Regions from separate parts of the Homo sapiens genome. Here all the other regions are linked to region 1. Evidence: fine-mapped expression QTL. A gene starts in region 1. Each other region holds a variant in brackets. All regions are shown on one strand. Distances are from middle to middle.

The links. PIP is the estimated chance that this variant, and not a neighbour inherited with it, causes the effect.
Region 2: its variant is fine-mapped to the expression of LINC01176 in gastroesophageal junction (GTEx, PIP 0.97).
Region 3: its variant is fine-mapped to the expression of LINC01176 in sun-exposed skin (GTEx, PIP 0.96).
Region 4: its variant is fine-mapped to the expression of LINC01176 in ileum (GTEx, PIP above 0.99).

The regions. Positions count from the first base shown.
Region 1 is chr7:30,386,425-30,394,503 of GRCh38, reverse strand. It overlaps LINC01176 (long intergenic non-protein coding RNA 1176), which reads right to left and starts at 3,619. Exons shown (of 3, transcript NR_108081.1): 1 at 3,469-3,619. RefSeq lists an enhancer at 2,819-3,437.
Region 2 is chr7:30,423,983-30,432,061 of GRCh38, reverse strand. NOD1 (nucleotide binding oligomerization domain containing 1) reads left to right here. Exons shown (of 14, transcript NM_006092.4): 13 at 2,605-2,688; 14 at 6,352-7,535. The coding sequence ends at 6,424. Among named protein-coding and RNA genes, the nearest start is that of LINC01176, 37 kb to the right of the region's middle. The variant A/TA (reference allele first, on the strand shown) is at 3,688.
Region 3 is chr7:30,541,319-30,549,397 of GRCh38, reverse strand. GARS1-DT (GARS1 divergent transcript) reads left to right here. Exons shown (of 7, transcript NR_038889.1): 7 at 1-1,041. It also overlaps the pseudogene TRPC6P10. Among named protein-coding and RNA genes, the nearest start is that of GARS1-DT, 32 kb to the left of the region's middle. RefSeq lists an enhancer at 208-709. The variant C/G (reference allele first, on the strand shown) is at 4,023.
Region 4 is chr7:30,242,565-30,250,643 of GRCh38, reverse strand. All of the region lies in intron 2 of LOC124901607 (a long non-coding RNA gene), which reads right to left. LOC105375218 (a long non-coding RNA gene) reads left to right here. Exons shown (of 4, transcript NR_136267.1): 4 at 2,250-3,217. Among named protein-coding and RNA genes, the nearest start is that of ZNRF2, 38 kb to the left of the region's middle. The variant A/G (reference allele first, on the strand shown) is at 2,966.

The DNA.
Region 1 (8,079 bases):
TAAAAGATTTGTATATTGAAAACCATAAAACGCTGATGAAAGACACTTTAAAATACTGAAATAGGCTGGGTGTGGTGGCTCACGACTGTAATCCCAGCACTTTGGGAAGCTGAGGCTGGCAGATCACGAGGTCAGGAGTTTGAGACCAGCCCAACCAACATGGTGAAACCCCATCTCGACTAAAAATACAAAAATTATCCGGGCGTGGTAGCACGTGCCTGTAATCCCAGCTACTCAGGAGGCTGAGGCAGGAGAATCACTTGAACCCAGGAAGTGGAGGTTGCAGTGAGCCAAGATTGCACCACTGCACTCCAGCCTGGGTGACAGAGAGAGACTCTGTCTCAAAAAAAACAAAAACAAACAAACAAAAAACTGAAATAAATGGTGAGATATATTACATTCACTGGTAACAGGACTCAATATTGTTAAGATGTCAAAATTGATCTATAGGTTCAATGCAATCCCAATCAAAATCCCAGTAGGAAGTCTGGTAGTAATTAATAGGCTGATTCCAAAATTTATATGGAGGGGCAAAGGAGCTATAAAAACTAAAACATTTGAGGAAAAAAAAAATAAAGCTGGAGGACTCACACTACCCAATTTCAAAACTTACTACAAAGCCACAGTAATTAAGACAGTATAGTCATAAAGAAGGGGCAGACACAGATGCAGAAAAGAAAATTCAGAAATAAATCCACACCCATGAATAACTGATTTTAAACAAGGTGTAAAGATAATACAGTGGATAAAGAACAGTCTTTTTAACAAATAATGCTAGAATAAGTGTATATACATACACAAAAACAAAAACAAAACTCTCCACCCATTGCTTGCACCACATAAAAAAAGTAACTAGAAATGGATCATACCTTAACTGCAATACCTAAATCTTCTACAACAAGAGTTAGCAAACTAAGGCTCATGGGCCAAATCTTTATCTGTTTTTGTAAAAACAGTTTTACTGAACACCTATTCATTTATGTATTTTATGGCTGCTTACATGCTACAACAGTGACTATGACCTGTAAAGCCTAAAATATTTTCTATTTGGCCCTTTACAGAAAAAGTTTGCTCACCTCTTTTCTAGAAGACAGATCTTTGTAACTTTGGGTTTACCAAACATTTCTTAGATTTGACACCAAAAGCACAATTCAAAAAAGAAAAAGACCCAATAAATTGAACTTCCATCAAAATTTTAAATGTCTGCTCTTCAAAAGACATTGCTAAGAAAACAAAAGAACAAGCCAGACTGGGAGAAAATAGAAAATACTTGCAAGTCATATATATATGTATATATATATGACATATATATATATGTATATATATATGACATATATATATGTCGTATATATATATGACATATATATATGTGTATATATATGACATATATATGTATATATGACATATATATGTATATATGACATATATATGTATATATATGACATATATATGTATATATATGACATATATGTGTATATATATGACATATATATGTATATATGACATATATGTATATATATGCCATATATATGTATATATATGCCATATATATGTATATATGCCATATATGTATATATGTCATATATATGTATATATATGTGACATATATATGTATATATATGACATATATATGTGTATATGACATATATATGTATATATATATGACATATATATGTATATATATGACATATATATGTTATATATATGACATATATATGTATATATATACATATATATGTATATATGACATATATATGTATATATTTGACATATATATTTGACATATATATATTTGACATATATATATATTTGACATATATATATATATATTTGACATATATATATATATATATATAATTTTTTTTTTTTTAAAGACAGGGTGTCACTCTGTCTCCCAGGCTGAAGTGCAGCAGCACAATCATGGCTCACTACAGCCACAACCGCCCAGGTAGCTGGGACAAAAGGCGTGTGCCACCACCATGCCTGGCTAATTTTTTGTATTTTTTGTACTTTTTTTTTTTTTTGTAGAGATGGGGTTTCACCATGCTGCCCAGGCTTGTCTCGAACTCCTGGGCTCAAGCAATTTGCCCACCTTGGCCTCCCAAAGTGCTGGGATTACAAGCGTGAGCCACCACACCTGGCCAAAACCATATTTTTGATAAAGGATTTGTATCAAGAATATACAAAGAATTCTCAAGATTCAGTAAGAAAACATACAATCCAGTTTTTCAAAAATGTGCCAAAGGGTTGAATAGACACTTCACTAAAGAAAATATACCTGTAGCAAAGAAGAATATGAAAAAATACACAACATCATTTGCATTGGGAGAATGAAAATGAAAAACACAATGAAATGCACCGTATACCCAAGTCAAAACAAAAAAATAGCAAAAACATCAAAACTGCAGACAATATCAAATTCTGGTGAGGATGCCAATCACCTGGAATTTTCATACATTTTTGGTGGGAATGCAAAGTGGCACCACCAGTTTGCAAACCTGTTTGGCAATTTCCTACTAAGTATATATACATATTTATCATATAACTAGCTATCCCACTCCTAGGAATGTACTCAAGAGAAACAAAATCTTTGATTCACATAAAAACTTCTAGGTGAGGCCGGGCGCAGTGGCTGACGCCTGTAATCCCAGCACTTTGCGGGACAGAGGCAGGCGGATCATGAGGTCAAGAGATCAAGACCATCCTGGCCAACATGGTGAAACCCAGTCTCTACTAAAAATGCAAAAATTAGCTGGGCGTGGTGGCATGTGCCTGTAATCCCAGCTACTAGGGAGGCTGAGGCAGGAGAATCACTTGAACCTGGGAGGCGGAGGTTGCAGTGAGCCAAGATCGGACCACTGCACTCCAGCCTGGCGACAGAGCGAGACTCTGTCTCAAAAACAAAACAAAACAAAACAAAAAAACTTCTAGGTGAATGTTAACAGCAGCTTAACCACTGTCACTAAAAACTGGAACCAACACAAATCTTCCACTAGTAAATGGATGAGTAAACTATGGATTGCCACTCAGCAATTAAAAGGACCAAGCTGCTGAATACACATGACAACATGGATGACTCAAATGATTATGCTAAGTGGAAGAAGCTGGGCTTCTGTGATTTTCTATTCTCATTCATATTCAAGTTGCTTGGGTAACTTGTAATCTTTATCGCTTGCCACACATTATTCTTGAATAAGTATTTAACGGGAGTCTCCTGACGCTTGAGATGAGCCCTCTTCCAGAGAGATCTTGCTGTGCTTCTGCCGAATTCAGATTTTGAGAATCCTTGGCCCAACCAGCTATGTATATTTGAGAAGCTAATCTTCAGGGAAGCAGATATGCACAGGCCTTCCAGGGAAATTGTATTTTCTATTTCTTTTCCTCCCTGCTCCAAGAGCACCAAGGTAGCCACAGTTCATTACAACTGCTGGGAAGAGGGCACTGGGTTCAGCTCTGACTCCTCCTTACCTTTAGCTCCTTGTTATCCGATTCCTGTTGGTAGGGTCTCCTGCAAGCACACTGTCTTGCGTGGGCTCTGTGCTTTAACATGTTTTCTTGGCTCAGCCAGGCCACAGAAACAGCAGACAAGTGTTTGTGGTATCAGCAACTGCTGTCTCAGCACAGGCAGCTTTTTGTTCCAGTATTCCATTTCCCTCCCTGGTTATAGACTTTTATCCAAAAACTGGCCTGGAAGTTCAATGTTTTTTTAGTTCTTCACTTAAAAAAAGCCATTATTTTGTTTCTTCAAGTTTTCATAACCAGCCATCACCAGAAACTGGAAGTCCAAACATGCTCTTATTATTTAAGTAATTGGTGTACATGGTATAAATTCACGTCTTACAGAAAGATGCACAATGAAAAAAAGCAGCCTCTCCATGGCCCCTCCTCCCAATTCCAGTCCCACCCACTCCAAGTAAAGCAAAAAGTGCTTTAGTTGTATTTCTAAACGTTCCTACAACAGATATCTATTATTTTGCAATGGGAAAAATTTTACTTTAAAACATCCCCGGAACTTCTAATCTTCTGATACTTATAACCTCCATATCTCCAAGTAACATCTTTCTCTGTCTCTTGGTTCACAAACTCCTATGTCCAATATCTCCCACCTAAAAATGATGCCCTTTATAATCCCCTTGAAAAAGTGGAGTATACTTACCTCCTTGCCACAATCCCAATATGTTAGTCTTATTATTTCTTAGCTTACTGAGTGCCAACTATGTGCCAGGCAGTGCTTTAGAACCCATGGATACAATAGTGATCAAAACTAACAAAGTCCTTGACTTCACAGTGCTTACATTCTGGAAGAAGAGTGACAATAAACAAACATAAGATTTGTCAGGTAAATGTTATAGAAAAATAGAACAAGGTAAAGGAAACAGGGAATGTAGGGGTGAGGGCAGATTCATGAACTTATTTTGTATTGTATAGTTAAGGAAGGGCACTCAGATAAGGCGATATCTGAGCCAACGCAACAAAGGAAGTGAAAGAGGAAGCCTGTGGATACTTGGAGGAATTGTTATAGGCAGAAGGAAGAAGTGCCAAGGCCCTGACACAGGGGCTTGCTTGCCTGGTGTATTCCAGGAATAGCTTCAGGGGAACAAGTCAGGGGTGAGCAGGAGAAGATGAGCTAGAGAGGCAGGAGTGAGTGGCATGTACATGTCTGTGTGTATGCATACATGCACACTCCGGATGGCTGAGGGTATTTTAGGTCATGGTAAAGACCTTAGCTTTGGCTCTGAGTAAGATGGGAGCCAAGGGGGATTTTCAGCAGAGTAGTACCATGATCTGACGCTGTATTTGTTAACTTATAATGACCCCTATATTCCTTGATCCATCAACTTTAGACCAAAATGTTCATCGAAACATTTTTTGTAACAGTAAAATATTGGGGGAAATTATTTGACCACAAGCATTGTCTAAAGATATTATGGTACAACTACGAAATGGAATACTATGCAAATACAAAACATGATAAATGGAATGTTAGAAATGTGGTTCTAAAATACCACATATAATGTTATCCTGTGAATATATATGCATTGAAGAGTATGGAAAGACATATGCCAACAAATAAGGAGAAAAAAGTCTCTGGGGAGATGGGAAAAGGAGAAATATGAAGGTATTTTTTCCTTTGTGCCTTGTGTTTCCAAAAGTTCCTACAACACATATCTATTATTTTGCAGTGGGGAAAATTTTACTTTAAAACATCCAAGGCCAGGCGTGGTGGCTCACGCCTGTAATCCCAGCACTTTGGGAGGCCGAGGGGGGTGGATCACCTGAGGTCAGGAGTTCAAAACCAGCCTGGCCAATGTGGTGAAACCCTGTCTCTTCTAAAAATACAAAAATTAGCCTGGTGTGGTGGCGGGCGCCTGTAATCCCAGCTACTCAGGAGGCTGAGGATGGAGAATCGCTTGAACCCGGGAGGTGGAGGTTGCAGTAAGCCGAGATCGCGCCACTGCATTCCAGCCTGGGCGACAAAAGTGAAACACCGTCTAAAAAAAAAAAAAAAAATCCAAAAGATTAGAACCATAAACTAATCATTTTCTTTGTTTTAAGCTCAAAACAATTATATACAGCTCCTATGAGAATAATCAATACTGAATATCAACAAACTGACACGCATGTGGCTACCAAGTCTCTAGAATGACCCACTGAAATTCAGTAAAAGCTTAGAGAGCACAGGGTTAACTGCCATGCTGCACTATTTCCCCTCTTACTTGAACAAAGTAACACTTGCTGATGTAACTGTGCTTGCCAAGTTTTTGATAGTAAGTCCATCATGTCTCGTAACTTCAAAGAGTCTCAAAAGTGTCAAGATCCTAAGACAGGAAACTTCTGGTAGCTGACAATGTCTGGTTAATAGGGGGTTTGGTGAAAGCACAGGCAATGGGCACAGTAGAGAAGCAAGCAGCAAACAATGGAGATGTCCAGGACCATCCTGGCACGTGTTCTCCAGCGTTTCTAGGAAAGGTCTCTGGTCTAGTTATCAACCGCTGTGTAACAAACCATCCCAAACTTAGTGAGATGAAACAACAATCATATATCATCTTCTCTCACAATTCTGGGGATTGACTGGACTCAGCTAGGCAGCTCTCCCTCAGGTCTCTCATCCAGCTCTAGCCAGATGGTGGTTAGGGTGGAATCATCTAGAAGGCTTCCTCACTCACATGTTTGGTGGTTGACGTGGCCAGGGCTTTCTCACACAGCATAGAACCTTGGTTCCACGGAGAACCTTCCTGAGAGAAAGCCAGTTAGAAGCTGTATTACCTATTCTAACTAAGCCCTGGAAGTCATACAGCATCACTTCTGTTGCATTCTGTTAGTTAGAAACAAGTTACTAGGGCCAGTTCATACTCAAGATGAGTGAAATTCAGATTTTGCTTCTTTTTTTTTTTTTTTTTTTTTTTTTTTTTTTTTTTTTTTTGCAGATGGAGTCTCACTCTGTCCCAGGTTGCAGTACAGTGGCATCATCTCCGCTCACTGCAAACTCTGCCTCCCAGGTTCAAGCGATTCTGCTGCCCCAGCCTCCTGAGTAGCTGGGATTACAGGTGTGCACCACCACACCCAGCTAATTTTTGTATTTTTAGTAGAGACGGGGTTTTGCCATGCTGGCCAGGCTGGTCTCGAACTCCTGACCTCAGATAAGTGCTCCAAAGTGAGAGCCATCACTATTATTTGCATAATCTCATTTACACAAACTTGATAAAAGCATAGTATCAAAAGGCTGATGTGAACTGCTTCATTAATAGTCTTATTTTCATCATCATTAGGTGCGGTCCACCTATGTCCCTGGCATTAGATGACTCCACAAAGTTTTATTTTATATTGAATTATATTCGCCTACTGCCTTTTTTTCGAGACAAGATCTTCCTCTGCTGCCCAGGCTGGAGTGCAGTGGCGCAATCATGACTCACTGCAGCCTCAACCTCCTGGGTTCAAGTGATCCTCCCATCTCAGCCTCCAGAATAGCTGGGACTACAGGCATGCCCCACCAATGCCTGGCTAATTTTTAAATTTTTTATAGGGATGGGGTCTCACTATGTTGCTCAGGCTGCTTTTGCACTCCTGGGCTCAAGTGATCCTCCTACCTCCCAAAGTACTGAGATTACAGGCATGAGCCACTGCGCCCAGCCTATTGCCTTCTTTTTAATTCATAATTTCAGAGATACTAATGGATGTCTTTCACACAACACTTCAAAAGAAGTTAACACTCTGAAAAAATACCACAATAATTTTCTAAATATTCAGTCATTGACTTAAATATTTATAGATGACTATTTTGTGTCAGAATCTTTTCTGGGTTCTGGGATACTGCAATGAACAAGACAGAAAAAAATCTCGCTTTCATCGAGTCCTCATTCTAGTGGGAGAAGGGAGATAAGATAAACAAGGAAACAAACATGATGAGGTAGGCAGTGCTAAGTGCTAAGAAGTTTAACAGGGAACAGGATGCAGAACAATGGGGGTGGTCTTCTTCTTTAGACAGAATGATCAGAGAGAGGCTATTTTATAAAGATGGGGTGGCCACAGGCGGCCTTTCTGAGGTGTGAGATTTATGCAGAGGTCTGAACAAAGAAAGAGCCAGCCAAATGAAGATGTGGAGGAAGAGCATAAATATTATAATACAAAAAACTGTATCTCACTATTAGTTCTTATTCCAGCACTAGTTCAATGGGACTTTAAAGCAAAAATCCACTTGCTAAGACACAAATCTCTCAAACATATTGGGCAGAATAAAAAGTTCTGCAGTTTTAAAAAGCTGCTGTTATAATGGATGGATTAAATGTTTTTAAATATGAACCACATATAAAAGTACCAGGAGAAAATACAAGTGAAAGTTTATGTAAACTTGAGATGGGTAAAATCCTTCTAAGCATGACCACAAAGTTCAAAAACATACAGCAAAGATTGAAAAGTGTGATTACTTTTATAAGAAGGCAAAAATATTGGACAGCAACAAAATACCCAAAAACACCACAAGAAAATACACTGCCATGAAGATTCCAAGATAAATGGCAAACTGAGAAACACATTTGCAACATATATTAACAGTCTAACACTAAAAATATATAAAAATAA
Region 2 (8,079 bases), 38 kb before region 1:
ATGATCTCAGCTCTCTGCAACCTCCACCTCCTGGGTTCAAGCGATTCTTCTGCCTCAGCCTCCTGAGTAGTTGGGATTACAGGCATCAGCCACCATGCCTGTCTCATTTTGTATTTTTAATAGAGATGGGGTTTCACCATTTAGGCCCAGGCTGGTCTTGAACTCCTGACCTCAGGTGATCCACCTGCCTCAGCCTCCCAAAGTGCTGGGATTACAGGCGAAAAGCCACTGCACCTGGCCAATAGTTTTTAATTTTGATGAAGTCCAATTTATCTATTTTTTTCTTTGGTTGCTTGTGCTTTCAGTGTCTTATCTAAGAAATGATTGCCTAATCCAAGATCACAAAGAACTCCACCTAAGTTTTCTGTTAAGCGTTATAGTTGTTTCCCCTCACATATAGGTCTGCAATCCATTTTGAGTTAATTTTTGTATAGTGTAAAGTGAGGGTTAACCTCATTCTCTTGCACGTGGATATCCAGCTGTCCCGGCAGCACCACGTGTTGAACAGATTATCTTTTCCTATTGAATGGCCTTGACACCCTTGTCAAAAATCAATTGACCATAAATGTATGGGTTTATTTCTGAATTCTCTGTTCTGGTCCATTGATTTATATGTCTCTCCTATGCCAGGACCATTGCTGTAGCTTTGTGTAGTACATTTTGAAATCAGGAGGTGTGAGTTCTACTTTGTTCTTCTTTCTCAAGATTGTTTAGACCATTCTGGGTTCTTTGCATTTCTTATGAATTCAGACTCACCTTGTCAATTTCTGCAAAAAGACTAGACTCTGCTACATATTGTTTTTTCTTTCCTTTTTAGCCTGCAGAATTATTTGATCCCATTCCCTAAGTGCAGGCCAGCCTCTCCAGGGAGAGCAGAGCTAGGACAGGGTCAGAAAGAGAGTCTTGGCTGCTTTGTGCATTCCCAACCTGCACTGGCCCTAGTGAAGGCAGCCCGAGTGGGTGGATGTGCCTGGACACTGCAGGCTTTTTAGGGGCATTAGGTGCTCTCCTTCCTGGCCTCCTGCCACATCTTGGTTGGAGGCTGCCTTCCCTGCCTTCAAAAAAGCCTAAGTGGTGACTAGAAAACAGCAGAGTGTAACTGAATACAGAACTTGGTGCCCACTTCCTGGTTCTATTTTTGTCCCTTTTGAAAGGGAAGGTCATTACCTCTGCCATTGAACCCAGGGGCCCTAGCCCTTGTGGGGTATGGCTGGGAGCACCAGATCCTGGCTGCAGCCCAGCCACCAGTGGTCCTGTGTGCTTGGGCAGTAACAGTGACAAGAGCTCCCTTCCCCCTGGACACTGTGCCTAATACCCTCCTCTTGAAATCTCACACACCCAGTGGATGGGGGGCACTCTTATAGTTATTCTCAGTTTACAGATGACACAACTGAGGCACAGACAGATGCGTTTATTTCTTCAAGGTTCTGTAGCTGAACAGTGGGGAGGGAGGGTTTAAGAGGAGCTGCACCCGCTCTGCAATACTGCCTCTCACGAGGGAGTCCTCTTCATTCATGACAGCATAGGGCCCTCGTCTTCCTGGTAAGGGCTTCCTTCTTGGGTCAGTGCCAGGATTTCTAAGGGTCATGTTTAGCAGGAGCCTATTCTACAAACAGCCAGGAGCAGGGAATGACTCTGTGATGAAGCGGAGACACTACAGCCTCTTGATGCATTTATTTCCTGGTTGGGTTAGAAGCGTAGCTGCCCAAGGGAGCATTTCAGGAGAGGCCTGGCTTCCTAGCGATAGCTGAAAACTTTGTTTCATTTGAATCACTGCTACCCAGAACAATGGGGTGCATTCTCAGAGTCCCCATTATTAAAGCTTTTCCACTGAGCCCCATGAGAACTATTCATGAGAACTATTTCATGGCAGCATAACTGTTTCTCCTCCCTCCCTCTTGCATGTTGGTAGCCTCTTAACTTTAAAACCTGCCTTGCCTTTCCCTAGCTACCTGGAAGGAGACGTCAGACTTCCTGTCCCATGGTGTGTTTCTTACAATTTGTTGTTCAGATTGGTGGTCTCCCAAATATATATAAAAATATAAATGGAGTCTCACTCTGTCACCCAGGCTGGAGTGCAGTGGCACGATCTTGGCTCACTGCAACCTCCACCTCCCAGTTCAAGCAATTCTCCTACCTCAGTCTCCCGAGTAGCTGGGAGTACAGGTGCACACCACCATGCCCAGCTAATTTTTTTGTATTTTTAATAGAGACAGGTTGGCCAGGATGGTATCGATCTCCTGAGCTCGTGATCCACCCACCTCGGCCTCCCAAAGTGCTGGGATTACAGGTGTGAGCCACTGCACCCGGCCCCAAATATTTTGATTATGCACCTCTGCAGTGAAAAATGCAAACACACACATCAGTTCATGTATTACATTATGTTCACTATAAAAACAAACAGAAAATTTAAAAAATATCAAGCTATCCTTTACTCTAGTGGATCTTACCTGGACACTTTTAGCCAGATACAAAGTCACATGGACTCAGTTCTTCCCCTGACCAACTTGTCTCTTATCCCAAAACACCCTTGCAACTCCCTTACGAAGGGGTCAAATTTGATCCAGTATTATGGATTTTATACAAGTTATGTTCTTCTTTCAGGCTTATCCAGAATCAGATCACAGCTAAGGGGACTGCCCAGCTGGCAGATGCGTTACAGAGCAACACTGGCATAACAGAGATTTGGTAAGATCCCAGCGTTTGTCACAGTAATAACACCAGTGACTGTTTACTCACCACCACTGACTGTGCAAGGCACAACGCAGGGTGGTTTCTGTTTATTCCTCCAGCAACCCTGCACAGTAATGGTATTACCTCTGTTTTACAGAGGTAGACAGAGGCCCAGACCAGTGAAATAAGGTTGCCCAAGGTCACTACGAGAGAAGCTAGAATTCAGCCCAGAATGCCTGATTCCATATTCTGTGCTCTCCTGCCCTGGGCCCCCGCCCTCATCTACCTTCATTGGGTGGGATGGGGGAAGTGGCCAGTGAAATGATTTCCTAGTGGAAGTAAATCCCCCTGGGACTCAGCAATTGAGAGATGACTGTGTTGGCCAGGAGTTTGGAGCTCATTCTTCCCCTTTTCTGGGTTCCGTAAGACATTTCCAGGCTGACTTGAACTGACCTGTGCTCTTTGTCTACTTCTTTTTTCTGCTTTGAGAACTTCCTTATGCTAATAGAAGAAAAAAAGTTTGCTTTACTGTGACATTGAGCGCCATGCCACTTCTTTCTTGCCTCCCATAAGGCACAGACACTCCCCACTCAGCAGCTCCCTTAACAACTTAATTGCCTGGGTGACGTGGGACTGGGTGGATGCTGGGAGAGGGGCCTTATTAACTATGTCCTCCTTTCATGACTGGGGAGAATTTCATAGCCAATTAAAAAAAAACAAAAAACAGCTCCTTGGCCAACACAGGCTCCTCATACAGTGTTTTTTAAACTTTGCTTTAGAACTTGTTTGGAACTTGTCATAAAATCGATCAGTTTGGTGAATTGCAACCAACAATATTTAAAAAGAAAACAGAACAGAACAAAATATCAGGATGCAATGTGCATGGTATGAAAGTATCATTTCATTCATCTTAGTTCATGCTTGCATGTGAGTGGGTGTGTGTTTGCATAAGTGTTGGTTCACAACATAAAATGTAATTCTTATTTAGGGTTGTAGACAAAAGGTTTTTTTTTA[A/TA]AAAAAACACTGTTGGCTAGGCATGGTGGCTCATGCCTGTAATACCAGCACTTTGGGAGGCCAAGATGGGCAGATCTCTTGAGCACAGGAGTTTGAGACCAGCCTGGGCAACATGCGAAACCCCGTCACTACAAAAATTAGCCCGACATGGTGCTATGTGCCTGTAGTCCCAGCTACTCAGGAAGCTGATGTGGGAGGATGGATGCATGGGAGATCAAGGCTGCAGTGAGCCAGGATCATGCCACTGCAATCCAGCCTGGGTGCCAGAGACCCTGTCTCAAAAAACAAAAAAGAAAAAAAGAAAAACACCATCATAGAGAATAGAGCCCAGATCTAAACAGACACCTGTGGCCTGTGTGCCTGCGAAGCCCAGCCTGCCCAGCAGCCTGGGAAGCACTGGAGGGCACTGGAACTGTTTGCATGGGTGTTTGCCCTCAGGCCACTCCGTTTCTGCTGATTCTTAAGTTTTGAGGACAGCAGGCAGAGGGGGAGAGGAAGGAGACTGCCAGACTACAGAACAGTTTGCAGAGCACAGTTGGCTTCCACTTTTCTCTGTAGCTGGTCAGGCGGGTAGTAAAGACCTACAGTTGCTTTAATTCTGTCAAGTTTCAAAATCTGCATTGCTTCCCTCTTGAGGGTCACCATTCCTACACAAGGAACCATTTTAGTAGGGCCAGGAGACTTCAGCTTCAAGGCCTGCACTTGTGTCAGGGTGGAGAGGGGAACTGGCCACCAATTCAGAGAGGGCAGGACAGGCGGCATGGGTGCTGGTCTTGGGAGTGTCTTCACTTAGGTCCCTGGCTTGTTCTGGGAGCCTCCAGAGCATGCTCCTCTGTGTGTGACTTCATGGGACTGGGCTCTGAGAAGGCTGTGGCTTTGTTGGCCCTGCCAGGGACTGCCACACCAGGCCACAGGGTTGTGGTTGAGCTGGCCGGGGAGCCACGTTCAGGGAGCAGCTCTGCTTGGAGCCAACACTTACAGAGTAAGCCTTCTCCTTGGACTTGTTAACTGTACTGACACTTATTTCTACCTCATTCCTTTCTGAAAATAACTTGGAAGTCTGAAGTCCCTTGATGAGTTCTGTCTTTAAGAACAGAAATTAGAGGTGAACAATGAACACTGTAAATTACAGAAATGTATCCCACTCCAGTATAACAGCTTTCTGTGAGGCTATCTCCTCCAGACTGTGGCTCTGGGAGGGTGGGGCCTGAGTCAAGGTCCTAGGGACTAGTGCTGTGTCTTCATTTATTCCTTGAATAACGAAACGCTTGAGCATCAGGGACTGTGCTAGCACCAAAAATCCAGTGGTGAACAACATGGCTTCATGGGTTCACTGTCTAGAAAGGGAGAAGCACATTAAAGAAAAAATCATTTGCGTAATTATTTAATTACAACTGTGATGGGTACTATCACAAAGGGGAAGGCCAAGAGGGAACCTGATTTAGATGAGGTTGCAGGGAAGGCCTCTCTGAGGAAGCAGCACTTACACTAAGCCATGAAGGATGAATAGGAGCTAGTCAGCTGAGGTGAGTATTCTGCGTAGGGAACAGCATGTGCAAAGGGTCTGGGGCAGGAGGGAGTGTGGTGTCCTGGAAGAACTGCCAGAAGCTGCTGTGCCCCAGGGTTCAGACAGTGTGGAAGAGGGGACTACAGGAGGCTGAGGAGATAGGCAGGGACTGGACCATAAAAGATCTGTGGGTCATGATGTGCATTTTGGTCTTTATCCTAAAAGTGATGGAAAGTCAGTGAACAGTTTGAAGCAGGAGAGGCATGTGATCAGATCTGCAATGCAAAAAGACCAATTCTTGGCTCTTCTAGGAAACTGAATTGGAGAAGGCCAGAGTACGTGGAAATGACCTGTCAGTAGGACATTGTACTGATGCAGGGAAGAGATGATGGGTGCTCAGACCAAGATGGCCGGCCAAAGACATAGAGGTTCCAGGGAGGCATTCTAGATTCTTAGGAATTAGGGGAGAACTTTGTGATACAAGGAACATGGGGATGAGAAGGAAGGTGTCCAGGTTGACCCCCAGGTTACTAACCTGCTCAGCAGGATGAGAGTGGTCCATTCACTAAGCCAGGGGACCCTAGGAGGTGTGGCTACTTTGAGGTGTGGGGGAGAGGTCCAAGTGAGGATGCCAAGCAGGTAACTGCCTCCACGGACATACAAACAAGGCCGTGGCATTGATGAGATCGGGTGGGGAAAAGGGCTTAGCCCCAAACCTGGAGGAAATCTCAGATGTAGAGGTCACATGGAGGAGAATATAGGAAAGGAAATTGAAGTAGAGTGCTCAGATGCAGGAGAAAAATCAGCGCATATAACCAAGCCAAGGGGAGGGAGTGCCTCAAGAAGGAGGGAGAGGAGAGGTCAGGACAGCCAAAATCCTGAGGGCCAAGAAAGACAAGACCTGGAAAATGTCATTAAATTCAGGCTTATGGAGGCTACAGGTGACCTTAGTGAGACCCAGTGAACAGAGGGATGGCAGCTGGAGAGGATCCATGCTAATATGAAGGAACTATCTGCAAAGGGTATGTTCCTTAATTTCAGGGATACATGTGTATTGTGTGATACACGAGTGTGTGCTATGAACACACCTTGGGAAGGAGTGTGCGAGGATCCTTAACATTTTACCTGTGTACTTTTGTCTTCCTCCTTTTCAACAGCCTAAATGGAAACCTGATAAAACCAGAGGAGGCCAAAGTCTATGAAGATGAGAAGCGGATTATCTGTTTCTGAGAGGATGCTTTCCTGTTCATGGGGTTTTTGCCCTGGAGCCTCAGCAGCAAATGCCACTCTGGGCAGTCTTTTGTGTCAGTGTCTTAAAGGGGCCTGCGCAGGCGGGACTATCAGGAGTCCACTGCCTCCATGATGCAAGCCAGCTTCCTGTGCAGAAGGTCTGGTCGGCAAACTCCCTAAGTACCCGCTACAATTCTGCAGAAAAAGAATGTGTCTTGCGAGCTGTTGTAGTTACAGTAAATACACTGTGAAGAGACTTTATTGCCTATTATAATTATTTTTATCTGAAGCTAGAGGAATAAAGCTGTGAGCAAACAGAGGAGGCCAGCCTCACCTCATTCCAACACCTGCCATAGGGACCAACGGGAGCGAGTTGGTCACCGCTCTTTTCATTGAAGAGTTGAGGATGTGGCACAAAGTTGGTGCCAAGCTTCTTGAATAAAACGTGTTTGATGGATTAGTATTATACCTGAAATATTTTCTTCCTTCTCAGCACTTTCCCATGTATTGATACTGGTCCCACTTCACAGCTGGAGACACCGGAGTATGTGCAGTGTGGGATTTGACTCCTCCAAGGTTTTGTGGAAAGTTAATGTCAAGGAAAGGATGCACCACGGGCTTTTAATTTTAATCCTGGAGTCTCACTGTCTGCTGGCAAAGATAGAGAATGCCCTCAGCTCTTAGCTGGTCTAAGAATGACGATGCCTTCAAAATGCTGCTTCCACTCAGGGCTTCTCCTCTGCTAGGCTACCCTCCTCTAGAAGGCTGAGTACCATGGGCTACAGTGTCTGGCCTTGGGAAGAAGTGATTCTGTCCCTCCAAAGAAATAGGGCATGGCTTGCCCCTGTGGCCCTGGCATCCAAATGGCTGCTTTTGTCTCCCTTACCTCGTGAAGAGGGGAAGTCTCTTCCTGCCTCCCAAGCAGCTGAAGGGTGACTAAACGGGCGCCAAGACTCAGGGGATCGGCTGGGAACTGGGCCAGCAGAGCATGTTGGACACCCCCCACCATGGTGGGCTTGTGGTGGCTGCTCCATGAGGGTGGGGGTGATACTACTAGATCACTTGTCCTCTTGCCAGCTCATTTGTTAATAAAATACTGAAAACACTCTTACGGGTTGAGTCTGGAGTTTTTGAAGGGACTTGGCTTGGTAAGCACTCATTGACTCCTGAGCCCCATCCTGATTCACTCCACAGTGGGGAAGGGGCTCTGGGGTGATGTGCTATGAGGAGAGCCTGATGAAGGCCAGGGGTGTCACCAGTTTGATCCTTCACAGGCCTCTCTGCCTACCAAGGGACAGGAAGCGGCTGTGGCAGCCTCTGAGGTCTCTCCATCTGGCCTCTGAATCTCTTCAGGTGGCTTCTCAGAGGAAATAACTTGTGAGTAGGGGGTGGCTGGTGCCAGGACAGGCCAAGTGGGCCAAAGTTCATGCCTTCATCACCATGCCATGGTAGAGCCCACGGGCCAGGTTCGACGTCCACTACCTTCCTCGGCTGTTCACTGCTGAGTGGCGGATCCAGGTAGGCCCATGGCAAGAAGCACCGAGCTGCCAGGGGCAGCACGTGACAGAGGAAGGCATGCAGGGCCTCCAACGGTCCACCTCTGAGTTCTTATGAGTCCAAGCCTGGCTTTGTAGAGCAGCCTGTTAGGAAGGGGA
Region 3 (8,079 bases), 150 kb before region 1:
GGCTTGGAGAGGTTACTCTGCCTAAAGTCTCATAGCTAGCGAGTGGCAGAGATTGGACTCACCCAAGCTTTGTCTTATTCTCAAGCTCTCAACCAACCCGGTGGTGAGAAGAGCCAGCAGCAAAGCCTGTCATCTTTGTCTTCTTTTTTTTTCTAACCTCAAATCAGGGAGAAAATGCCCTTTGTCATTAGAAGGGCAAGGCAATTCTGAAGACAGCCCAGTTGGCTTGTCTCCGATTTGGCTTTCAGGGGCCTGTCTGATACCTATGGAGAGACGAGGGCTGAACAAGCTGTACTCTCAAAACAAAACAAAGCAAAACAAAACTTTAGTCTCTTTAGGGACTCTCTGATAGTAATGCAGAGGGAGAAAGGCTTTCTTTGTCTCACTGGGAGGAAGGTTCCCTACGGAAATTGAAGGCAGTGCCTGTTGACATAGCGCTGCCACCTGGTGGAAATAATGGTGTAGGACATCATGTCCAGCACCACTAGCGCTGAGACACTCCCTGGGAAGAGAAATGTTTGGAGAGAAATTTGCAAGAAGTTGGAAGTCTCGCAGTAGCAGGTAGGAACAAGAATTATAACTGCTACTGTGACCCCCTAAGGCTCCTCACATCCTCTTAAGGCTTGGAGAAACTCACACTATGTATATTTTCCTGTATTTTTGAAAAATGTTTTCCTTTATGCTTTGTTGTAATGAAATTACCTCTGATGGTCACATACCTTAAATATTTAGTATATATATGAATACTAAATGTCCATTTTCAGGAGTTAGTTTACCTGCATCTAAAATCAGGAATAGGTCACAGAGTAACTGAGCAAAAAGTGCTGTTAGGTTTGTGCATTTCACCCTTTGCCTGGGATGAGAGGACCTCAATCATCTTGGTACTAATGACAGGAAAAGTGCCCTCCTATCCATGTGTATCGGCTACGTGACTCAAGTCTCCTTATTTCCTTTTCTAGCATAACAAGGGGTTGTTACTGTTGTTTTACATCTGTGTTAATGAGATAAATAAGTTTAAAATAAAAAGATGTGTACCAGGCAGATGGAAAGGTGAACCATGAAGTTTTTGCCATCTGGATCTTCTGTCAAAGACAGATGAAAAATTCTGCCCAGGGTGTATGCTGAAGAACACAAATACTTAATCTGGAGTTCAAGTATGGGCTTCAAGGAGTCTATACACCCCTGAAATTTTGGGACAGATGGAATGTGTCTGAAGTATATTCATTTTTCTGGGAGGAAGCTCCAGAGTTTTCATCAGCTTCTGAAAATAGTGCATGCCCAAAGAGAAGGTTCAAAATCATTGCCTGGGGCCTTTCAGAGGGTCCTTCTAATCATGGTGTTCCCTAATGTTAATCAACACCACAAGCACTATTATTATTAAAAGTAATTGGGTCAGGTGTGGTGGCTCATGCCTATAATCCCAGTACTTTGGAAAGCTGAGGGAGGTGGATTGGTTGAGTCCAGGAATTCCAGACCAGCCTGGCCAACATTAGCTGGGTGTGAAGGCACACATCTATAGTCCCAGCTACTCAGGAGGCTGAGGTGGGAGTATCTTCTGAGCCCAGGAGGTGGAGGCTGCAGTGAGTTGAGATCATGCCTCTGGCACTCCAGCCTGGGCAACAGAGCAGGACCCTGTTTCAATAATGATAATAGTAATCATCATCATCATCATCATGATGTCGCAAGCTGATTTGAAATAACTTATTTTTATATAAGCACTTGGATTTACATAGGCTTGACTGAGGAATTACACTAGTGATTAAGGGTTCAACCTGGACACTGGTAAGGTAGACCAAGCCACATGAACCCCTGCCATTGGCAGGCCAGCAGCCAGTCCATCCTTCCTCCTTTGGACCCGTGGACTGTACTCAAAATCAGTAGAGGCTCTGTCAGAAGGTCCTGGGAAACAAGACCTGTCCATGGTTTCTTTACCTGAAAGTAAAAATGTTTGATGATATAATTTTTAAGTTCCTTTGAATCATTAAAGCTCACTGATTTAGGAGAATGGCTTTTACAATTTTTCAGCTTTAAACTCCCTCCTAAGTTTCTGAAGATCCTCTTGGGCCACTTCATGGATCTGATTTAAATCTAAAGTCCTAGGGGTTTCAAGGAGCACAGTTTGGAATCTACCATCCCGGGACATTCATTATATTAGTCTGTTTTCATGCTGCTGATAAAGACATACCCAAGACTGGGCAATTTACAAAAGAAAGAGATTTAATTGGACTTACAGTCCCACGTGTTGTTCCCTTTTTGCTGACATTACCCTGTCTGAAGTCCTCTACCCAGGGAAGCCACAAGGCACTGTTCTGGGTGGAGGTGGGTGTGGTGTCCACTGCGCCATACCCACCAGGACCTGAGGTGGAAGCTGGCCAGACACTGGTGCTCTGCTGGCATTTGGGCTGCAGATTTGGGGCAGGTAATGGGCATGGAGAGAACAGAGCCAAAAGCAGCACAGGAAGATGTGGCCATTCTGGTCTGAGAGAGGCATGGGAAATGACGGTTGGTGGCAGAAGCGTTTTCTAAACTTAGGCTCGTGAACAGCTTTCAAGTCCAGCTCTTGTCCAGATGTTGTCTTATACCACATGCTCATGGCAACCAGACCACCTCTGATTTTTTTGCAACCAGGTGCCTAACACAGCACATCAGTCAGGATCTGGCAGGAAGCAGGTGACATTCACACAAGGTAACTGACGAAAGCTGCTTTTGTTTTTTGCTTTTGGAGGAAGATGTTGAGAACACCTCCATTTATTAAATTAGCTATAGTAAGTGTAGTTTACATATTAAGGAGAGATTAATGATAGGATTTATACAGATGTGACAGGTTTAGGGAATGACCCCACTCAGCTGTCCCCCTTTCTATGAGACCATGCCTCTGCCTTCTCCCAACTCCATTCCAGCCCAGATGGCCTTCCTTTGTCCTTCTGTGGGGTGGAGATGGGAATGGTTCTCAGTTCCAGCTAGAATCAATTCAACTGGGGAAGCTTCAAAATACGTCAGTGCCTGGGCCCCGCCCCCAGCATTTCTAATTTAATGGGGCTCAGGTGGGGCCTGGGCAGTGGTGCTGTGTAAAAGCTCTCAGTTGATTCCAACACGCCCAGACCAATTCATTGACACTCTCTGGGGTAGAGGGCCTGGGCACTGGTACTTTTTCAAATTTCTCCAGTGCAGCCAGAACCAAGAAGCTCTGTTTTCTTTCCAAATCTATTGTCTGTTGGGGTGATCAGACCCAACACCAGGTCATGGGGGTGACAAAGTCTGGTGGAGTCAAAGGATTGAGAAATAGGTTTGAAAGAGAAAGGTGGGACACCAGGGGGCCATCGCCATTGTGGAGGCTGTGAAGGCCCTGAGCTCTGGGAGCCCATGCTATTTATTGGCAGTCCAACAAAGAAACATGTGGTGAGAATGTGGAGGTCAAAAGGACATGTTGCATTAAGCACATGATTTACAGCTGTGATGGTTTAGCGTTTATATGGAACATGTTTTGCTACTTGAGATAATGGGAGTAGGAGCCTAGGAAGGCTAGAAGCAAGGAGCCAGCAAGGCTAGACACATTCCAGAGGACATTATGTCAGATATGCAAGCCCTGCCTCAGTTTCTCCCAACACTCAGCTTTTTCCTAACATGCCCCCCTTCTCTTTTTTGTAAAAGAGAAAGTATTATTACTAGCTATCATTAGCAAGGTGATTGCAGGCTGTGCAGCCCTTAATTGCCGGTTGGTGATCCAGCTTCATTTTTCTTAGCCCTTATTCAAACCGGAGTCACTCTGGTTTGAGTGCTTCCCACATATCTCCGCTTTCCCTTTTACAGGACCCTTAATCCTAGGGGTTGCAGAAGGATGAAGGTCCATCTTCTGTAACTTCTTCATGCTGAATAGGGGTGATGATACTCCTGCCTAACTATTAGGGTTTCTGTATTCAGGGTAGAGAGGAGCTCAGCCAGAAAGCATTGGTCTGTTAAGCATCAAGACTCCGGTCGGTCCTCGTTCCATCTTCTCATTCAGATTCAGCTGGCTCATGGCT[C/G]GTACTGGGGAACCCAGTCCATGCTTAGGATCCATGGGTCCCTCCAGTCTCCCATTCCATGGTCGTACACGTCTTGAGGGCATCCACATGGTTCGTTCATCTCCTGCAAAAACACAAGCATACCCTCACCCCCACATTAGTAAATCTACTGAAACAGAAGCAAAAACTGTTGTGGCTGTAGCTGGGAGGCCACTGATATTGAGAAACAGGCCCTTCCAACAGAAGGCACCAGGAAAGCAAATCAAGGCTTAAAAGCAATCCTTAAACCTTCAATTTGCACTGTACAGGTGGGTCCACTAGATGCTGTGGCTCATGACAGATCTTCAGATGTTTGGTGAGGACCCACACAGGCACCTGATCATCACCTGGAGAGACACAAACAAATCCTCTTCCTCATATTAAAGAATGGAATTCTTGTGCATCAGCAAAGACCACAGACACCAATGCATCTGCCCTTTAAGTTTAAAGGACCAAAGAGTCCTATTGGAGAAAAAAGAAAAAGCATTTTTATCCTTACCTTCCCCCGCTCTATTCCTTTTATATTTGCCCTTTGAGCCATAGCTAATTTCCATAATTCAGAATGTTCTCGTCTGTCCCTGCAAATCTCTGCTAGTCTTTGCTAGCCTCTACTTTTGTACCTCTTTAGGGCACTGACCTTATATTGCTAGTCTTTGCTTTTGTACCTCTTTAGGGCACTGATTTTATATTGCTAGTCTTCATCTATCCCTATCTGTCCCTGTGGTACCTGTGAGTTCCTGCAAGTCTCTGTCTCTATCTCTATCTCTATTTATCTCTATCTATCTATATCTCTATCTATCTCTATCTCTATTTATCTCTATATTTATCTCCTTTAGCTGTACTTACTTATCTCTACTTAGACTTACTTATCTCTACTTACTTACTTGTCTCTACTTATCTCTACTTACTTATCTCTGCATCTTTCCTGGAAACCTTTTCTATGACCCTGAGTAGAGCTCAGAAATCCACCCTTTAAGCTTCACCAAGAGAAAAACAGGGACACTGGACCCTGCACCAGATTGAAGGGAACAGGAAGTGCTCTCCCCGCCCCAAAGCAGGAAAACAAGAGTTTGGCCCTTGCAAATTTCCACTCCACATCAGCGTCATCCTCAATTTCCTGGAACATTATAGCAATGAATTTGTGGTTATAGCTGATGACCACTGATTTCACTTCAGAAAGTCCAAATATAGCCCAGAACAGTGTCTTAAAACTCTGTTGTGAAGGCTTCATTTTGTTTTGCACCAATGTAGTAGGAGTAGACGTTGAACATTCCCATCATAAAGGCCACAAATACCACAATGAACACATTCCTTGTGTGCTGATTAAATCGTTTTTCTGTAGCAGAGGTAGGTTAACCATGAAACTGAAGCGTGATGACTTCACTTGCCCTATGCAAAGCAGCCCATGATTTATTTTTTCTGGGGACTACTGACAACCAGTCCTGTGTGTCAACCGGTAAGCATCCAACAGCAGGTCTACTGTACAAATAGGTCTTTTGTCAGACACTTGATTAACCCAATATATAGCCTTTCCTGTTGGATTAGTGCTACCAAAGCCTCCAGTTCTTTTCACTGTACTGCTTCCCAGCTTTATGTCAACAACTGAGCAATTCTTTCTCCTAGGGAAGCAGACCACGGAGTTGAAGAACTAATAACTAATTGAATTTCTCCAGTATAATCAGAACCAATCATTCCCATATGCACAGTTACATCTCTAGGTCTTTCTTTTTATTATTATTATACTTTAAGTTCTAGGGTGCATGTGCACAACGTGCAGGTTTGTTACGTATGTATACATGTGCCATGTGGGTGTGCTGCACCCATTAACTCGTCATTTACATTAGGTATATCTCCTAATGCTATCTCTCTCCGCTCCCGCCACCCCACTACAGGCCCCAGTGTGTGATGTTCCACTTCCTGTGTCCAAGTGTTCTCATTGTTCAATTCCCACCTATGAGTGAGAACATGCGTGTTTGGTTTTCTGTCCTTGCGATAGTTTGCTGAGAATGATGGTTTCCAGCTTCATCCATGTCCCTACAAAGGACATAAACTTATCCCTTTTTATGGCTGCATAGTATTCCATGGTGTATATGTGCCACATTTTCTTAATCCAGTCTATCATTGATGGACATTTGGGTTGGTTCCAAGTATTTGCTATTGTGAATAGTGCCACAATAAACATAAGTGTGCATGTGTCTTTACAGCAGCATGATTTATAATCCCTTGGTTATATACCCAGTAATGGGATGGCTGGGTCAAATGGTATTTCTAGCTCTAGATCCTTGAGGAATTGCCACACTGTCTTCCACAATGGTTGAACTAGTTTACAGTCCCACCAACAGTGTAATAAAAGTGTTCCTATTTCTCCACATCCTCTCCAGCACCTGTTGTTTCCTGACTTTTTAATGATCGCCATTCTAACTGGTGTGAGATGGTATCTCATTGTGGTTTGGATTTGCATTTGTCTGATGGCCAGCGATGATGAGCATTTTTTCATGTGTCTGTTGGCTGCGTAAATGTCTTCTTTTGAGAGGTGTCCATTCATATCCTTTGCCCACTTTTTGATGGGGTTGTTTGATTTTTTTCTTGTAAATTTTGTTTAAGTTCTTTGTAGATTCTGGATATTAGCCCTTTGTCAGATGGGTAGATTGTAAAGATTTTCTCCCACTCTGTAGGTTACCTGCTCACTCTGATGGCAGTTTCTTTTGCTGTGCTGAAGCTCTTTAGTTTAATTAGATCCCATTTGTCAATTTTGGCTTTTGTTGCCATTGCTTTTGGTGTTTTAGTCATGAAGTTCTTGCCCATGCCTGTGTCCTGAATGGTATTGTCTAGGTTTTCTTCTAGAGTTTTTATGGTTTTAGGTCTAAAATTTAAGTCTTTAATCCATCCTGAATTAATTTTTGTGTAAGGTGTAAGGAAGGGATCAAGTTTCAGCATTCTACATATGGCTAGCCAGTTTTCCCAGCACCATTTATTAAATAGGGAATCCTTTCCCCATTTCTTGTTTTTGTCAGGTTTGTCAAAGATCAGATTGTTGTAGATGTGTGGCATTATTTCTGAGGGCTCTGTTCTGTTCCATTGGTCCATGTCTCTGTTTTGGTACCAGTACCATGCTGTTTTGGTTACTGTAGCCTTGTAGCATAGTTTGAAGTCAGGTAGCATGATGCCTCCAGCTTTGTTCTTTTGGCTTAGGATTGTCTTGGCAATGTGGGTTCTTTTTTGGTTCCATATGAACTTTAAAGTAGTTTTTTCCAATTCTGTGAAGAAAGTCATTGGTAGCTTGATGGGGATGGCATTGAATCTATAAATTACCTTGGGCAGTATGGCCATTTTCACGATATTGATTCTTCCTATCCATGAGCATGGAATGTTCTTCCATTTGTTTGTGTCGTCTTTTATTTCATTGAGCAGTGGTTTGTAGTTCTCCTTGAAGAGGTCCTTCACATCCCTTGCAAGTTGTATTCCTAGGTATTTTATTTGCTTTGAAGCCATTGTGAATGGGAGTTCACTCAAGATTTGGCTCTCTGTCTGTTACTGGTATATAGGAATGCTTGTGATTTTTGCACATTGATTTTGTATCCTGAGACTTTGCTGAAGTTGCTTATCAACTTAAGGAGATTTTGGGCTGAGACGATGGGGTTTTCTAAATATACAATCTTGTCATCTGCAAACAGGGACAATTTGACTTCCTCTTTTCCTAATTGAATACCCTTTATTTCTTTCTCCTGCCTGATTGCCCTGGCCAGAACTTCCAACACTATGTTGAATAGGAATGGTGATAGAGGGCATCCCTGTCTTGTGCCAGTTTTCAAAGGGAATGCTTCCAGTTTTTGCCCATTCAGTATGATATTGGGTGTGGGTTTGTCATAAATAGCTTTTATTATTTTGAGATACGTCCCATCAATACCTAGTTTATTGAGAGTTTTTAGCATGAAGGTTGTTGAATTTTGTCAAAGGCCTTTTCTGCATCTATTGAGATAATCATGTGGTTTTTGTCTCTGGTTCTGCTTATATGCTGGATTACGTTTATTGATTTGCA
Region 4 (8,079 bases), 140 kb after region 1:
ACATAGGAGTCAAGCAGTAAATATTGTTGATGCTCATCTTCTGCCCACACCCACCCATGATAAAAGAACAAATGATGATCCACCGAGTCTTAGCAGCAAAACACTTCCTGTGCTATATAGAGAAGGTAAAAAACACCAAGCCCACGACAACTGCCTAGGTACAACTCATCTTCCTTTAGAGTGATGCTAATCAAGTTCATCTGGCCACTTTGTTCTCCACATTAGCATCTAATAGATGAAGCCTAGAAGAAAAAAGCCATTTTTCTTAGGATTCTTATAATCACAAAGTGTCTGTAGTCATAGGGATCAGGAATGGTTAATTAATACTTGCATTATCTTGCTTCCTTTTCTCCCATTATTTATATTTCCCAATGGAGTAAAACAGGGTTCAGCTTGGAAAACAAAGAAGCAATGGTTCTTAAAATACTGTTAACTCTGTCTGTGGAATGTACTCACAGCACAATCACAAGGGCAAAGTTATAAATGATGTGGCTTTGTTAGTGAGGCTTGCTTTATTTTTGTGAATGCATTGAATTTAATGAAACAAGGAACAACAACAGGAATGTATTATGTTTTCTAGTTTTCTTATTGACATGCTTTCTGTTGGGTCTAAGTATAGTTCTTTCCTAACTAGCACTAATTTTCAGTATTCTAAGTCACCATGCATGAAATCCTATGTTCTGTTCCTCTGTTATGAAAATGGTTTTCTTAAGTCTAGGTTTTTTGAAACTCCAGGTTTCAGTTGATTTAATGACTTGGTAGTCTTGCAATGTGGCTCTACATTCAAAACACCCACAGAATCTGACCACTTCTTACTACCTTCAACACTGCCCAGCCCGAGCCAGCATTATCTCTTCCCTAGATCACTGCATTGGCTCTGACCTGCCTCCACCCTTGCCACATTAGAGTTCATCTCAAAATAGCATTCAGAGTGGTTCTTTAAACACAAAAACAAGAAAAGGCCATTCCTCTGCTCAGAGCCCTGCCAGGGCGCTCCATTTCACTCAGAGTCTTCACAGTGACATGGGGGCCTGCCATGACTGGGTCCTCACCATGCTGTGATCACATCTCTATTGCTGTCTCTTCCTCATTCACAGTTCTGGCCATGTTACCCTCTTGCCGTTCTTTCAACATGCTGGGCACTGCCTCTTCCCTCTGTCTGTAATGCTCTTCCCTATATGTGGACACAGTTACTTCCCTCATTTCCTTCCATTTTTGTGTTTGAATGCCACCTTCTTAATGAGACCTCTCTTGGCCACTTTATTTAAAAGTGTACCCTGTCTACCCCAACTCCAGCATTCCTGGTACCCTTTACTATGCTGTAAGTTTTCTTTCTTCCATAGAGTGTATCACTTGCTAACATACCATATGATTTTCTTAAATGTGTCCTGTTTCTTGTCTGCCTGCTCCAGTAGAACGTAAACTCCAGGAAGGCAGAGAGCTTTGTTCACTGATGTACCCCAAACACAAAACAGAATCTGGCATGTAGTGAGCACTCAGGAAATACTGAAATATTTGTTGAGTGAATGAATGCATCACCAGTGTCTAGAGCTATTCCTGGCACACAGTAGGCTCTTAATACTGGTCAAATGTCTCTCCCTGGAGGACGAACAGGGCTAAGTGTCAGAGACCCAGGCCGCATAGCATAGTGATTCAGAAGACCACAGGCTCTGCCTCAGCTGGAGTGGGCTGTGTCCTACTCGTATGACCTAGGCTGTTTACTTAACTTCTCTGAACCTCAGTTTTCTCATCTGCAAATTGGGAGTGATGAGTACCTCCCTTACAAGGTGGTTATGAGAATTAAATGTGATCATTTGGATAGTAAGTCTGGTAAATGCTCAATAAATTTGAGCCATTATTATTATTATTATTATTATGACATCTTATTCTTTTACCTCTTTTTTCAGGGAAATAACTTCCATGTCTGTTCTTACCCATCAGGATTATTGGGAGGAAAAATATACAACACCGTAAATGAAAAACATTTTATAAACCTTATACCACTCTCCGGATGCTGGGGATCAGTTGCACATATAAGAGGTGCCCCATGGACACCATTGACTCATTAATCTGGGAAGTCTACAGGTAGTGGGAAACAGTCTTAAGTGCTGACAAAGAAAATTACACTGGTTCTAATCAATAGCTAGGATCCCTTCTGAGATACCCCTTCCCCGTGGCATCATGGAGGTGGGAGGAGGGCCAGGCCATATTTCAAAGTCCCCCTCCTTCTCTTCCCTCTTCCTCCCTAGGCTGCCAGAACCTTTCCTTGTAGTGCAAGAACAACCACACTGCTGGAAGTGAAATTTGCAATCTGCTCTATCAGATGATTTCTGCGCATGGGCTGTTACTATGTTCAAAGCATTAAACTGCCTGAAAGTGGATTATTTACAGAGCTTCTCTCTTCCCAGAGCTACGGATAGGTGGCAATTCAGCCTCTTCACCCTAATGCACACTTTCTCACTTTCCACCGAGACTCTTTGTTTGCTGACAGCATCTGGCTATCCTGAGTACTTGCCTTAGCTGGCACAGTTCTCTCCAATCCCTAGAAGAAACAGCCTTCACCTACACTCCAGGGATGAAATAACATTTCAGCTCAAAGCTAGCAACCTTTCTCTGAAATGGTGTCACACCCAGACAGAAAAATAAATGTGCTGTTTCTTCTTAGATGATGAGAAGTCAGGCTTTCAGGCAGACTTTTGACACAGGGAGGATCAAGGTTTGACTGCCTTTGAGTAATCCTTGCAGAAAAAACAGCACCTAATTGGACAAAGGAAGAAAGGAACCAGCTGCTACTGTCAAGATTATTTAAACACCCATCCACAGTCAAAAACACTGCATTGTTTCATTACAAGTGAAATTTGATTGCCACTACATTTCCTGCTGGCCTCCCCTCTATGCAAATTGGGGAGAAGAAAGAAATTCATAAGGCACCAGAACCCATTTGGCTTCTAAATGTACTGTTTGC[A/G]TATAGACATCAGCAGCCTGAATAAATCCTAGCGAGGAATGTCAAACTGACAACACTGGCTACTTTTCTATTGTTCTCCCTGAAAACATCGTTTTTAACACGTTCACAAAGGCAAGCTGGATTCTGTTTTATCAGTGTTTTAGTAAAAGACAAGTGGCGTGGTGGTTCAGTTGTGGGTATCGGACATTAATGAAAACCATTCTGGGAGAGTTCACTTTATAAAAGATTAAAATAATTCATCAACTTGCAAAACAATTGTTCTAACCCTCTCTGCTGACAGTCAATGTTTGTGCTGGGGGCTGAGTATTATATAATAATTTGTACAGCAGTTCATAGTTCCTAAAACATTTCTGCCTTGGGTCCGTCAGAGGACACTCCCAAGGATGCCATGAGTGAGGCAAGGGCAGTTTCCTTATCCTCATCCCGCAGATGAGAAAGCCAGATCTTAGAAAGATGGGGACTTTTTATTGTCACGGAACATGTCCAACCCCTGGGCATTCACCTTGCAATGCAGATTCCTCCTCATCCTTCGAAGCCCGAATACAACATCTCCCCTTTTCTGTAGTATTTCCTGTTCCCTCCACACCCCCTGCCACCAGCACCACTGCAGTTAATTCATTTATCCAGGATCAGTGAAAAACCACTCTGTCATGGGAGGAGATGCAGCAATGTCAAGGTCATCGTAAGTCCCATGACAAGGTGACAATCTCTCCTCAAGGGAAGCAAAGATGGAGACGGTGCCCTTGTGTAACACAAACCCAACTGGGCTTTCTCTGTGAGCTCAAACTGGGAAACTTAAGATGGAGAAGAGCTAGCTGGAGTTCTTCTGCGTGGGATCCTGCCTCTGTGACAGCCCCTGTATCTGCTGACAGTATCTCTTCTGCTTCTTCTCCACGACGTGAGACCCTCGAGAACAGGGACCATTTCTCTGCCAGGGACAGTGAAAGCCTGGCGCAGGACGATGCCCCATCATTGCTTCCTGAATGCACCTCTAGCGTAGTGATCCTGACAGGTCACCAGAAAACAGGGCCAGAGCTCACAGCTCTAACTCCTGACTTGGCATAATTTCTTCCCTGGGCTGCCTTATGGTGATGGCAGCAACAGCCCATCTAGAGTGGCTGCTGCCAAGACACTGGCTGTGGTGGGAAAGTGTGGCTGGGCTCCCGCTCTAGGGAGCAGGCAGGAGCCCTGCTTTCCTCCGGTGCTGCTGCAGCTGCCCTGGTGCAGCTCCAGACTGGGTGTCTCTGTGCCTTGGGGGCCCAGGAAGGTGCCCCTGCCCCCAACAGGCTCGGAAGTGCCTGCTCCCACTGCCTGGCCTCTCCCTGCTCCCAGTGCCTGCTCTGATCATACAGTAAGGTTGGGGCCAAGCCCGGGTACTGACACAGTCCAGCCAGGTGGACGCATGCTTGGGACAGTACTGATACGCCAGCCCCCTGCTCCCTCAGCCCCCTCTGAACTTTGGGTGCCAACAAGCATGGGAGGGAAGCTGAGCGGGGGGATGAGGGCAGCTCAGCACTGGCCTGCAGGCTCACCTTGGGACAAATAGCCTGGGTGCCATGAACAGCAGGGGGAGGCAGACAGGCTCCTGGGCAGAAGGGGTTGGGTCCCCGGTGAAGCCTCACCTTCAGCCTGGGAAAGTCCTAAAGCCTGGGGACCAGGCTGCCAGTCCTGCTGACCAGAGGGGGAACTCGGGGTGCTTTACCCTGGGCCCACCTATGGCTGCCCATGGACCAATCAGCATGCACTACCCCCCTGCCGAAGACCATAAAAACCCCCGACTCAGCCAGAGCAGAGTAGACTTCTGGATGACCAGCTGCAGAGAAGAGCTAGCCTCTCCAGGGTCTCCTCTCTGCTGAGAGCAGCAGACATCCAGACAACCAGCTGCAGAGAGGAGCTAGGGCCTGCTCTCAGCAGACAGAAACTACCCTCTCTGCTGAGAGCTGAACACTCATTGGGACAACTTGCCTGTGGAGAGGAGCCACCCAGTCCAAGCCTTTGCTGAGAGCTGCAGAGGTGATGGGATGACCTGCTTGCAGAGAGGAGCTACCCACTGCTGGTTTCCTCTCAGCTGTTCTACTACTTGATAAAGCTCCTCTTCAGCTTGCTCACTCTCCACTTGTCTGCATGCCTCATTCTTCCTGGATGCAGGACAATAACTCAGGCAAAGGCGCCACCGGCCACAGAGGTTTCTGGCTAGAAAAGCAACAACCCTAATAATAGTAACTATACTGTGACACATTATTCTGCAACACCCTCCTCCCACATTAAAAAAAAGAGGAGGGGGCAATAAAATTAATAATAGCTAATACACAAGAGGGCTTACTACATGTCAGCCCCCACCCTCGGTTGCACACGCATATCCCCTTAAAAGCCCCTCTGAGCTAGGCACTAATGTTCCCTTGTTCTATGGATGAGAAAACTCACCTAAAGATGCTTAGGCCATGCAGCTAGTATACAGATGGTAATTCAAACCTAAGCCCTTAACCTCACAGAAATTTAACAAAGTCAAAACAACCCAAAAGCTAAAAATTGCTTATCTAACTATCCAGAGATGTTTTCCTGCCCATAAGTCCCTGCTATGGACTCTATATGAGATGGTACAGAGCTACTCAAAGCTGGTCAGGAAACCGTCACCGGTCTATGATGGGATAAGAACAGAAATTGAGAGTAAACATTTAAAAACGTTTATGGCAACTTGATATTGCTGCTGTATCCAAGTGTGTGATCAGTGGACTTATCTTGTTCAGCAGGAGAGTGACTGTTTGGATGGTATGAACTTGAATGATGAACTGCCAGTAGTCTGGGCTGTGTGCTAGTATTATTCTGCAATAGATTGAAAAATTTCAGAAATTGATTCTTTACCAGTTTGAGAAACACTAACACTATAGTTCTATTTCAGTTACCTTGGGAGTAGAGGATGGAAAAAGTAGTCCGGCAATAGCTAGGAGAGTTTTGTCTAGTCTCTTTGCTACTGCCTAGCTGGGTGACCTCAGACAACTTCCCTTCTGATAATTGTAGAGTGAAGGGCTTACACTAGATTCTAAGTCCCTTCTGTGCTGTGGCACAATGAGCATATTTGTTACCAGAGTAAATCATTTCTTAATCTCTGCTTCCTCTGATATTGTTTGGCTTTGTGTCCCTACCCAAATCTCACCTTGAATTGTAATAATCCCCACATGTCAAGGGCAGGATCAGGTGGAGATACTTGAATCACGAGGGGCGGTTTTTCCCATGCTGTTCTCCTGATAGTGTTTATCACGAGATCTGGTGGTTTTATAAGGGGCTTCCCCCGCACTCGGTATTCATTCTCTCTCCTTCTGCCCTTTGAAGAGATACCTTCCGTCATGACTGTAAGTTTCCTGAGGCCTCCCCAACCATGAAGAACTGTGAATCAATTAAAACCCTTTCTTTCTTTATGGCAGCATGAGAACGAACTAATACATCCTCTATATAACAAAAATATTTTCAGCAGTAATCATGTAATAATCAGAAATAAGCACAATCTTCTTGATCTTTACTCTGAAAAACAAGTAATTTTAAAAGAATAATTTCCTTTTAAAAGATCACTCAAATATGCTCAAATAAATACCATACCTCACAGTTCATGCTCTGTTAGCCAATTTAAATTTAAATATAATAGAAATAAAATTTCCCAAAGTCACACAGAATTGAAGTAACTCAAATTCCATGTTTTTGTCTTTGCAGCCACTAAATCTGTGTTGCTGAGTCTGCTGTTTGCATGCAGGAATGTGAAGGACTGCTCAAGTTGGAGATACAAATTGAAGCCAGCCCCAGTTCAAAACTGTTACAAATGGAGTCTGTAGGCATGAGGGGCTGACTATATAACTCAGAGTTCTCCAGTACTTTACTTTAATAAAGAACACAATCTTTATTAAAGGATAAGTAATAAAAATGTGTTGATGTGCAACTTATGGATCTATTATTAAAACTCAACAGTCATTGCAGCAATGTTTAGAACTTAAGCAAACAAAAGTTTTGTGAGGGGGCAATTTTATCAATGACATTGTTTAGAAATGTTGGTAGATGGTGATCATAAAAAGCAGATCAATGTTTTATTTCACTTGGGTTTTTAAAAATTATTTTTAAAAAATTCTATACTGACAATGAACCCTCTTAATTCCTGAATATAGGGAAGCCCCCCCGCCCATGCCCAAACCCACTCTTGGTATGCTGCTGCTTCCAGTTATAATAGTTGGTATACTTTAGGGATTGAAAAGGACTTGGTTTTAAAGAGTTTCAACGGCAATGCACTTGCTCTTTTGGTTCAATAAGTTTAATTCTGGGCCAAGGGGAAAAAAATCCAATCAATATTAATAATAGCTAAAACTTACTGTGCGCATACTTTGTGCTGGGCTCAGTGCCCAATGCTTTGTGTATATTACTTCTTTCTTTCTTCCAAATGTACCTCTAGGAGATAAGTCCTATTCTTATCTCCAGTTTACAGACAGGGGAACTGAAGCTTAGAGAGGCCAGGTAACATCTCCAAGGTCACACAACTAGTAAGTGGTAGAGGGGAAATCTGGACCAAGTGGCCTGATTTAGGGCCTATGCTCTTCACCTCAAAGTTCTGCTGCTTCCACTTTGTGTCTACTTGCCACATACTCATCAGACAGAACAAAGCACACCACAATAGAATAATGACTCTTTGGGGGCATCTCTTCAGGGCCAGGAACTGTAACTACACTATAATATTCAATCTTCACAACAGCCCTGCTAGGCAGGCATTTAGTACCTCCCTTTTCTAGCAAGAAAATAACATTCAGCAAGGTTAATTACTTTTAGAATACAGAGTCAGTAAATGATGGAGCCCATATTCAAACCTCTACTTTTTTCTTTGCTTTTTCTGTTATCTTGCACTTCTTGCATAAGCCACCCAATGCTTCATTGAACCACAACATGAAAAAATCCTTATGCCTGAGAAACAAGATACTTTCAATCTAGTTGGAGAGCCAGGTGCCCGATTTCCCAGCCTGCCTTGCAGCTAGGAAGCCATAAATCCAGCCAATGAGATGTTAAGAGGAACTGGCTGGTGGAGATAGGTGAGTTATTGGAAAACCTTTGCCTTCCTGATAAAAGGGACAGCCTGAGCTATC